2 separate regions of the Homo sapiens genome follow, and region 1 is linked to region 2. The links come from fine-mapping of genetic effects on gene expression. Tissue or cell type: whole blood. Region 2 holds a variant in brackets; the other region holds the start of a gene. Each region is shown on its reference strand, or each on the opposite one. Region 1 holds the start of ZNF547 (zinc finger protein 547). Region 2 overlaps SP110 (SP110 nuclear body protein).

Region 1 (5,540 bases), not on the chromosome of region 2:
CTTTACTAAAAATACAAAAATTAGCCAGGCGTGGTGGTGCATGCCTGTAATCCTAGCTACTTGGGAGGCTGAAGAAGGAGAATTGCTTGAACCCGGGAGGTGGAGGTTGCAGTGAGCCAAGATCGTGCCACTGCACTCCAGCCCCTGCACAACAGGAGCCAGACTCCATCTCAAAAGAAAAAAAAAAAAGAAAGAAAGAAAGAAAAAGAAAGCTTATTCCCAATTTTTAAGTAAAAATATTTCATGGCCGGGAGTGGTGGCTCATGCCTGTAATCCCAGCACTTTGGGAGGCCGAGGCAGGCAGATCACGAGGTCAGGAGTTCAAGACCAGCCTGACCAACATGGCGAAACTCCGTCTCTACTAAAAATACAAAAAAAATTAGGCAGGCATGGTGGTGGGAGCCTGTAATCCCAGCTACTCGGGAGGCTGAGGCAGAATTGCTTGAACCTGGGAGGCGGAGGGTGCAGTGAGACGAGACTGTGCCACTGCACTCCAGCCTGGGCAACAAGAGCAAAACTCCGTCTCAAAAAAAAAAAAAAAAGAAAGAAATTAATTATTATTGATAATGAGTTCTTTATAAATAACATTGTTCACAAGGAAATACTAATTGATCTACTGATATGTGACATGAGACAGAATGTACTATTTTTAAATATAAAAGAAATTTCATTAAGTTTAGATAAGCTGAGAATACACAAAAGATTTCCAGGCTATTTAATCAAGTAATTTACAATGTACACATTCCTGAGTATACACCATTGTGGTGATATAATTTATTTTGGAATTTTCTCCATTCAGCTTAAAAGGTGTTTCTTCCCAAGAAACTGAACTTTTCTGTCAAATGCACTTGATCGAATAGGAGAATTGGGTTCATAAAATGGATTCATTGAAAATTTTATATATAAATCATAAACATCAGTAAAGAAGTTCTTTATTCCATCTTCTTGTCTTATGTCATGAAGCATAATAAACCTCATATGCCCCGCGGTGACAAATGCTGACACAAACCACTCGTTGAACTTGTCCACAGTTTTCAAGTACATGTTGTTCGACAGCCACATGTTCTCATCTACGAGGTCGAGAGCAGCATGAGCTATGAACTGGTTCAGATGACGATGGTCGTCTTTGGATTCTGCCTTCCCAGCTGGCAAAAACTCCATTTCAAAAACTGGATTATCATGGTGACCAACAATTACAAAGTAGAAGCTTCCAGACATGGTCTTCAATATATGGCTCCTGCAGCGGGAGGCCGACAACGGAAACGCAATGTCAGTTTCCGCGGAAGAGACCCGCGCTCCGCACCTTTTTTTGACACGGAATCTCGCTCTGTCGCCCAGGCTGGAGTGCAATGGCGCGATCTTGGCTCACTGCAATCTCCACCTCCTGGGTTCAGGCAATTCTCCTGCCTCAGCCTCCCGAATAGCTGGGATTACAGGCGCGCGTCACCACCCCCGGCTAATTTTTGTATTTTTACTAAAGACGGGGTTTCACCATGTTGGTCAGGCTGGTCTTGAACGCCTGACCTTGTGATCCGCTCGCCTTGGCCTCCCAAAGTGCTGGGATTACCGGCGTGAGCCACCACGCCCGGCCACCCTCTATTCTTTTGAAGAATCTACACCAGTTCTCCTCTGTAGACTCCACACCTTTCTGTCCCCCTACCCATGTGACATTTTCAACTTGAGACGCCTGAGAATCACACTGGCCAAACTCCAACCCATGATCTTCTCCATGAAACCTACTTCTCATGCTGCTGACTTCCCCAACTTCATTCTTTCAGATGTTCGGGCAAAAAAAAAAAAATGACCCTTCACTCCCTATTTTTGCTCACAGACATATCTGATACGGCAGGAAAACCTGTTGGCTCTATCTTCCAGGTCTATCCAGAATCCCATCACATTGTCCCTCTTATACCACGGCTCTGGTGCAGCCTCTGGGATCCACTGCAGTGGCCTCTTCTGGGTCTCTCTGTGTCAATTCCCCATCCTGCTCGTTCTAACTCTGGACCTGCCCCTCCCACTGGTCTTCCCTTGACAACCTTCCATGGTTATACCGGCTGCTCAGGCTGCCATTCCAAGAGAAAATTCACAAAACCCTCTCTTTCCCGCAGAAACAACCCACACTCCGGGCTCCCCGACGCGGCCCACTTGGCAGCACCTCCATGCTCTGAACCTGAGATCCCCGAAGGGAGCTCTGAGGCTGCATCAAACCAGCTGATACGGGGACCCCACACAGGAACGCCCCTCTCTTCGAGACAAGGGGCCTGACCTGCAGGGCCCCTTCTATGGGCTTCAGCACTGGAAGGAGGGGTCGGGCGGAGGTGGGGGGGGGCCTGGGACGGGGCACCCACCTCGGGTTCTTCGGCGGGGACTCCGCAAGTCCAGCCAGGGAAGAGAGGGGCGGGGGCGACAAAGGCAAGACAAGGACACCGCCGTCCCCAGTCCTTGTCAGCTGAGCTTCTGCCACTGTCAGTTGTGCCTGTGTCACTACCGCCTCTGCGTACAAGGAACCAAGCCGCTTCTCGCGCTTTTCCGCTCCGTCACTTCGGTGACGTCATAGAGCGCCAAAGGCCGGAACTAGTGAAAACACCAGAGAAAATCAAATCAACCACGGCAAGAGGACGCCGGAAGTCCCGCCCTCCTACGATGCGCGAGCACGAGGACGGACGCACGCACGCACGCACGCACGCAAAGGTTCCTTCCTGCACATTCATTGGGTCAGTCGCGCTGCCGAGAACCGCAGTGTCTTCTGGGTTATGAAGTTTCGACACCGCTTCTGGACTTGCCTTAGAGCGTTGGTCAGTCCTTATATGGCGGATAGAGGCTCAGTGGCACCGTCAGGGGAGCTGGTAAACAGAGTGCCGGACTCCACGGACAGGACGGGGCTTGGGTTGCTCTTAAAGGCGACATAACCAGATTTTCTTGAAGTAAGGTCTAGGATACTCACAGAAATGTGAGGGACCTATGATATCGGATTGTGAAGCACAGCAAGTTCTCAACGGCTACACCGCCAAAGGGACACACTATACCACAAAGGCACTCTGTCTCTACTCATGCCTCTCAGCCATATGTTGCTTTTCAAATACACATACAGTTAAACTTTGACTTCTATTTATTAAGCTTCAATATGGTTGGTCCAAGAGAACAAAGAAAGACTACATGGCTGGGAATTTGCACAAAAGAAGACAGGAGATACCGACGTAGATTGAAAGGGTGACGCTGTGCCTCTGGATCCAGAAGAAAACATCATTACTGTCTGTAGAGTCAGTGATTGTGTTCCTACCAAGAGTGCAATGCTTTTATTCTAATAATACTTATTACTTCATGTCTGAAATATTTTACATTTATTTTAAAAGTCTCAATCCTGTCTGAAAATGAGAGTGACTGATACATGCCATTTCCTGACAGGACATTTTGTGCCATTCCATAGTTGGAGTATATGTACACAGGGAACGTATTATCCCCAATAAAAACTGTGAACTTTCATGATCTTATCTCCTTCCTGAGAAGTGAGTTATCATTTTACAGGGAGTTGAAATTATCTGTGAAAATACTTGTGAAATGAAAATTACAGAAATCTATTAATAATAACTGTTAGGTTTTGAAGGGAAGGCGAGGGTTAAAGAAAGGCAGAGTTGGCAGCTCTACAGCAATGCAGGTTTTATGTCCAGCACGAGACCTGTGATGGGGAGAACTAGCTTAGTGCCAGAACCCCTCACTGCTTACAGGCTGGGGCAATTATAGGCCTGGATGAGAGGGGTCAGGGGTGGGGGGCAGGGGGCGCGGCGGGAGGGTATGACTTGCTGCCCAGGAGGATGGTGGGTTTTTTTTTGTTTTTGGAGGAGTCTCGCTCTTGTCGCCCAGCCTTGAGTGCAATGGCGTGATCTCGGCCCACTGCAACCTCCGCCTCCCGGAGTTCAAGCGATTCTTGAACTCCGCCTCCCGAGTAGTTGGCTTTACAGGCGCGTGCCACCACGCCCGGCTAATTTTTTTGTATTTTTAGTAGGGACAGGGTTTCACCATGTTGGTCAGGCCAGTCTGGAATTCCTGACCTCAGGTGATCCGCCCGCCTCGGCCTCCCAAATTGCTGGGATTACAGGCGTGAGCCACAGCACCCGGCCAAAGGATGTGCGTAAGATGTTCCTGAGGCAGTTTGGCCTTTTATCCGGCAGGATGTGATAGTGACCTTCCTTGGATCTTTTCCCAGAACGATGTGATAAGAAAGTCAGGCAGTTGGGCAGGATGTTTCTCAAGGCCCTCACTCCGTGGAATGCTTCACTCTGACCAAGGTCTGTGAGATGGCAGGGGGCTTACAGGATGGTGCAGTTTGGACTAACAGTGATTATGTTATTTCAAAACTAGTGGCAGAAATAGTCCTACAGAAATCTCTCTGTGACATGTGAAGGGGGGAAAAAGCAAGGTTACAGTAGAGTTTGAGCAAGAGTCTGAGAAGTCAAAGAATGAAGTTGAGACTGGCTGTGCTGGAACCTGGACACATTATGCTTCTGTCTCCTATATGTATTTCTTATTTCATACTTGAAAACATCGCTTATTAACTGTTTGGAGGGATAGAGATAACAAATGGAAACACTTGTCAAAAAATAAAAATGAAGGCCGGGTGCGGTGGCTCACGCCTGCAATCCCAGCAATTTGGGAGGCCGAGGTGGGCGGATCACGAGGTCAGGAGCTCAAGACCAGCCTGGCCAACATAGTGAAACCCTGTCTCTACTAAAAATACAAAAATTATCTGGGCATGGTGGCGGGTGCCTGTAATCCAAGCTACTTGGGAGGCTGAGGCAGGAGAATCGCTTGAACCCAGGAGGTGGAAGTTGCAGTGAGCAGAGATCGCGCCACTGCACTCCAGCCTGGGTGACAGTGCAAGACTCCGTCTCGAAAAATAAAAATAAAAATGAGTAGGCAATCTGTGTGATGATGTGTATTTACTGCTCTACAAAATGTTCAATGAGCACGTACAAACTGGGTTTCAGGTCAATGGTAGGTATATGGGACACACCGGGAATAGGGCTGCCAGCTGCTGTGTGTATACAGGACTGTTATGTGTTTCCTTAGATTCTGTATTTGTCTTTTTGGTATTCATAAATCACAGGTTCAAGCTAACAGCCAAAGTTGTTAACTTCTCTGTCTGCAAGCCACTTACTCAGAGGTGTGTGAAACTCACATAAAAAAACCCCAGCCAGGCTGGGCGCAGTGACTCACACCTGTAATCCCAGCACCTTGGGAGGCCGAGGCAGACAGATCACCTGAGGTCAGGAGTTCGAGACCAGCCTGGCCAACATGGCGAAACCCCATTTCTGCTAAAAATACAAAAATTAGCTGGGCATGGTGGCGGGTGCCTGTAGTCCCAGCTGCTTGGAAGGCTAAGGTGGGAGAATCGCTTGAACCCGGGAGGTGGAGGTTGCAGTGAGCCGAAATCATGCCACTGTACTCCAGCCTGGGCAACAGAGCAAGACTCCATTTCAAAACAAAACAAAACAACCCTGCCTTTAAAAAAGATACTTATTGTGTGTTATTAGGGAATTGCA
Region 2 (5,000 bases):
TTGAAGAGGTCCTTCCCATCCTCTGTTAGCTGTATTCCTAGGTATTTTATTCTCTTTGTAGTGATTGTGAATGGTAGTTCATCATGATTTGGCTCTCTGCTTGCCTATTGTTGGTGTAAAGGCATACTTGTGATTTTTGCACATTGATTTTGTATCCTGAGACTTTGTTGAAGTTGCTTATCAGTTCGAGAAGTTTTTGGGCTGAGATGATGGGGTTTTCTAAGTATATAATCATGTCATCTGCAAACAGAAACAACTTGACTTCCTCTCTTCCTATTTGAATACGCTTTATTTCTTTCTCTTGCCTGATTGTGCTGGCCAGAACTTCTAATACTATGTTGAATAGGAATGGTGAGAGAGGGCATCCTTGTCTTGTACTGGTTTTCAAAGGGAATGCTTCCAGCTTTTGCCCATTTTATATGATATTGGCTGTGGGTTTGTCATAAATAGCTCTTATTATTTTGAGATATGTTCCATCAATACCTAGTTTATTGAGAGTTTTTAACATGAAGGGATGTAGAATTTTATCAAAGGCCTTTTCTGCATCTATCAAGATAATCATGTGGTTTTTGTCTTGGTTCTGTTTATGTGATGGATTATGCTTATTGATTTGTGTATGTTGAACCAACCTTGCATCTCAGAGATGAAACCGACTTGATCATGGTGAATAAGTTTTTTGATGTGCTGCTGGATTTGGCTTGCCATTATTTTATTGAGGATTTTCGTATTGATGTTCATCAGGGATATTGGCCTGAAATTTTCTTTTTTTTTGTTGTGTCTCTTCCCAGTTTTGGTATCAGGATGATGCTGGCTTCATAAAATGAGTTAAGGAGGAGTTCCCTCCTTTTCAATTGTTTGGAATAGTTTCAGAAGTAATGGTACCAGCTCCTCTTTGTATTTCTGGTAGAATCAGCTGTGAATCCATCTGGTCCTGGGTTTTGTGTTGTTGGTAGGCTATTAATTACTGCCTCAATTTCAGAGCTTGTTATTGGTCTATTCAGGGATTCAACTTCTTCCTGGTTTAGTCTTGATAGGGTGTATGTGTCCAGGAATTTATCCATTTCTTCTAGATTTTCTAGTTCATTTGTGTAGAGGTGTTTATAGTATTCTCTGATGGTAGTTTGTATTTCTGTGGGATCAGTGATGATATTCCCCCTTATCATTTTTATTCTGTCTATTTGATTCTTCTCTCTCTTCTTTATTAATATGGCTAGTGATCTATTTTGTTAATTTTTTCAAAAAACCAGCTCCTGGATTCATTGATTTTTTGAGGGTTTTTTGTGTCTCTATCTCCTTCAATTTTTCTCTGATCTTACTTATTTCTTGTCTTCTGCTAGCTTTTGGATTAGCTTGCTCTTGCCTCTCTAGCTCTTTTAATTGTGATGTTAGGGTGTCCATTTGAGATCTTTCTAGCTTCCTGATGTGGGCATTTAGTGCTACAAGTTTTCCTCTTAACACTGCTTTAGCTGTGTCCCAGAGATTCTGGTATATTGTCTCTACATTCTTCACAGAATTAGAAAAAAAAACTATTTTAAATTTCATATGGAATCGAAGAAGATCCCATATAGCTAGGACAATCCTAAGCAAAAAGGATAAAACGGGATGCATCCCACTACCTGACTTTGAACAATACGACAAGGCTACAGTAACCAAAACAGCACGGTACTGGTACCAAAACAGACATATAGACCATGGAGCAGAACAGAGACCTCAGAAATAACACGACACATCTACAACCATCTGTTCTTCAACAAACCTGACAAAAACAAGCAATGGCAAAAGGATTCCCCATTTAATAAATGGTGCCAGGAAAACTGGCTATCCATATGCAGAAAACTGAAACTGGACCCCTTCCTCACATCTTATACAAAAAATAACTGAAGATGGATTAAAGACTTAAATGTAAAACCCAAAACCATAAAAACCCTAGAAGAAAACTGAAGCAATATCATTCAAGACATAGGCATGGGCAAAGTCTTCATGATAAAAAAGCCAAAAGCTATTACAACAAAAGCCAAGATTGACAAATGGGAATTAATTAAACTAAACAGCTACAGCACAGCAAAAGAAACTAGAAATAGAGTGAACAGGCAACCTACAGAATGGGAGAAAAATTTTGCAATCCACCCATCTGACAAAGGTTTAATATCCAGAATTTACAAGGAACTTAAACATATTTACAAGAAAAAAACAAACAACTCCATCAAAAAATGGGCAAAGGATATGAACAGACACTTCTCAAAAAAAAAAAAATTTACGTAGCCAACAAACATATGGAAAAACGCTCAACATCACTGATCATCAGAGAATTGCAAATCAAAACTGCAATGAGAGACCATCTCATGCCAGTCAGAATGACAATTATTAAGAAGTCAGAAAACAATAGATGCTGGTGAGGCTGTGGAGAAATAGGAATACTTTTACACTGTTGGTGGGAGTGTAAATTAGTTCAACCATTGTGGAAGACAGTGTGGTGATTCCTCAAGGATGTAGAACCAGAAATACCATTTGACACAGCAATCCCATTACTGGGTATATATCCAAAGGAATATAAATCATTCTACTGTAAAGACACATGCACATGTATGTTTATCGCAGCAGTATTTACCATAGCAAAGACGTGGAACCAACCCAAATGCTGGATAAAGAATCCAGCATTTAGACTGGATAAAGAATATGTGGTACATATACATCATGGAACACTATGCAGCCATAAAAAGTAATAAGATCATGTCCTTTGCAGGTACATGGATGAAGCTGGAACCCATCATCCTCAGCAAAGTAACACAGGAACAGAAAACCAAACACCGCATGTTCTCACTCATAAGTGGGAGTTGATCATTGAGAACACATGGACACAGAGAGGGGAACAACACACACCAGGGCCTGTTGGGGTGTGGGTGGTGAGGGGAGGGAACTTAGAGGATGGGTCAATAGGTGCAGCAAGCCACCATGGCACATGCATACCTATGTAAGAAACCTGCATGTTCTGCA[C/T]GTGTGTCCCATTTTGGGGGGTTTTTTAGAAGAAAAAAATTGAAATTATATTAAGTATCTCCTCAGATCACAGTGGAATAAAACTAGAAATCAACTCCAAAAGGAACTTTCAAAACCATAACAAATAAATGGAAATTAAATAATCTGCTCCTGAATGATTTATGGGTTAACACTGAAATTAAGACGGAAATTAGAAAATTATTTGAAATGAATGGTAACAGTGACATAAATTATCAAAACTTCTAGGATACAGCAAAAGCAGTGCTTTTAAGAGGAAAGTTCATAGCGCTAAATGCCTACATCAAAAAGTCTGAAAGATCACAAATTGACAACCTAATGTCATGCCTCAAGGAACTAGAGAAACCCAAAGCTAGCAGAAAAAAAGAAAGATGAGAGAAGAATGAAATAAAATTGAAACAAAAAATAAAAAAGATCAATTAAACAAAAAGCTGGTTCTTTGAAAAGATAAACAAAATTGATAGAACATTAGCCAGAGTAACCAAAAAAAAAGAGAGAAGTTTCAAATAAACTCAACTAGAAATGAAACTGGAGACATTACAACTGACACCACAGAAATACAAAAGATCATTCAGGACTACTATGAACACCTCTATGCACAAAAACTAGAAAAATCTAGAGGAAATAAATAAATTCCTGGAGACATACACCCCTCCTAGATTAAATTGGGAATAAATAGAAACCATGAACAGACCAATAACAAACAGTGAGATTGAATCCAGCAGCCCATCAAAAATATAATACACCATGATCAAGTGGATTTAATCCCAGGGATTTAGGGATGGTTTAACACATGCAAGTCAATAATGTGGTACATCACAAAAACAGAATTAAAAACCATAGATCATTTCAATAGATGCAGAAAAAACATTTGATAAAATCCAGCATCCCTTTAGATAAAGATCCTCAACAAACTAGGCATAGAAGGGGCTTACCTCAAAGTTATAAAAGTCATATATGACAAACCCACAGCCAATGTGATACTAAATGGGAAAAAATCTAATGCATTCCCCTGGAGAACTGGAATAAGACAAGGATGCCCACTTTCACCACTTCTATTCAACATAGTACTAGAAGTCCTAGCCAGAACAATCAGAAAAGAGAAAGAAATAAATGACATCCAAATTGGAAAAGAAATCAAAGTATCACTGTTCCCTGATTATATGATCATATACCTAGAAAACCCTAAAGACTCCTTCAGAAGACTCCTAGATTTGATAAATGAATCCAGTAAAGTCTCAGGTTACAAAATCAAATGTACACAAATTAGCACTGCTATACACCTACAGTGACCAAGCTGAGAATCAAAGCAAGAACTCAATCCCTTTTAAAACAACTTCAACAAAATAAAATAAAATACCTAGGAATATACTTATCCAAGGAGATGAAAGATTTCTACAGGGAGAACTACAAAACACTGCTGAAAGAAATCATAGATGACACAAACATATAGAAACACATCCCATGTTCATGGATTGGAAGAATCAATATGAAAATGATCACACTGCCCAAGGCAATCTACAGATTGAATGCAATTCTTATCAAATATCAACATCATTTTTCACAGAACTGGAAAAAAAATCTTAAAATTCATATGGAACCAAAAAAGAGCCTGCAAAGCCAAAGCAATCCTAAGCAAAAAGAACAAATCTGGAGGCATCACATTACCAGACTTAAAATTATACTACAAGGCTATAGTTACCAAAACAGCATGATACTGTTATAAAAGTAGATACATCGACCAATGGAACAGAATAGAGAACTCAGAAATAAAGCCAAATACTTAAAACCAACTGATCTTTGACAAAGCATACAAAAACATAAATTGGGGAAATGACACCATATTTAATAAATGGTGCTGGGAAAACTGGTTAGCCACATGTAAAAGAATAAAACTGGATCCCTATTTCCCACCTTATACAAAAATTAACTCAAGATGGATCAAAAATTTAAACCTAAGACCTGAAACCAGAAAAATTCTATAAGAA

What was found. PIP is the estimated chance that this variant, and not a neighbour inherited with it, causes the effect. A credible set is the group of variants that fine-mapping cannot tell apart.
Region 1: it holds the start of ZNF547, and the variant in region 2 is the best candidate, but not a certain one, in a credible set for the expression of ZNF547 in whole blood (TOPMed, PIP 0.66).

Annotation. Positions count from the first base shown.
Region 1 is chr19:57,360,512-57,366,051 of GRCh38, reverse strand. ZNF547 (zinc finger protein 547) reads right to left here and starts at 2,501. Exons shown (of 4, transcript NM_173631.4): 1 at 2,349-2,501. TRAPPC2B (trafficking protein particle complex subunit 2B) reads right to left here and starts at 2,501. Exons shown (of 2, transcript NM_001355204.2): 1 at 2,349-2,501; 2 at 647-1,237. The coding sequence starts at 1,218. The coding sequence ends at 796. RefSeq lists enhancers at 2,449-2,828, 2,869-2,948.
Region 2 is chr2:230,187,599-230,192,598 of GRCh38, reverse strand. All of the region lies in intron 10 of SP110 (SP110 nuclear body protein), which reads left to right. It also overlaps a transcript of SP140 not described here. Among named protein-coding and RNA genes, the nearest start is that of SP110, 30 kb to the left of the region's middle. The variant C/T (reference allele first, on the strand shown) is at 2,995.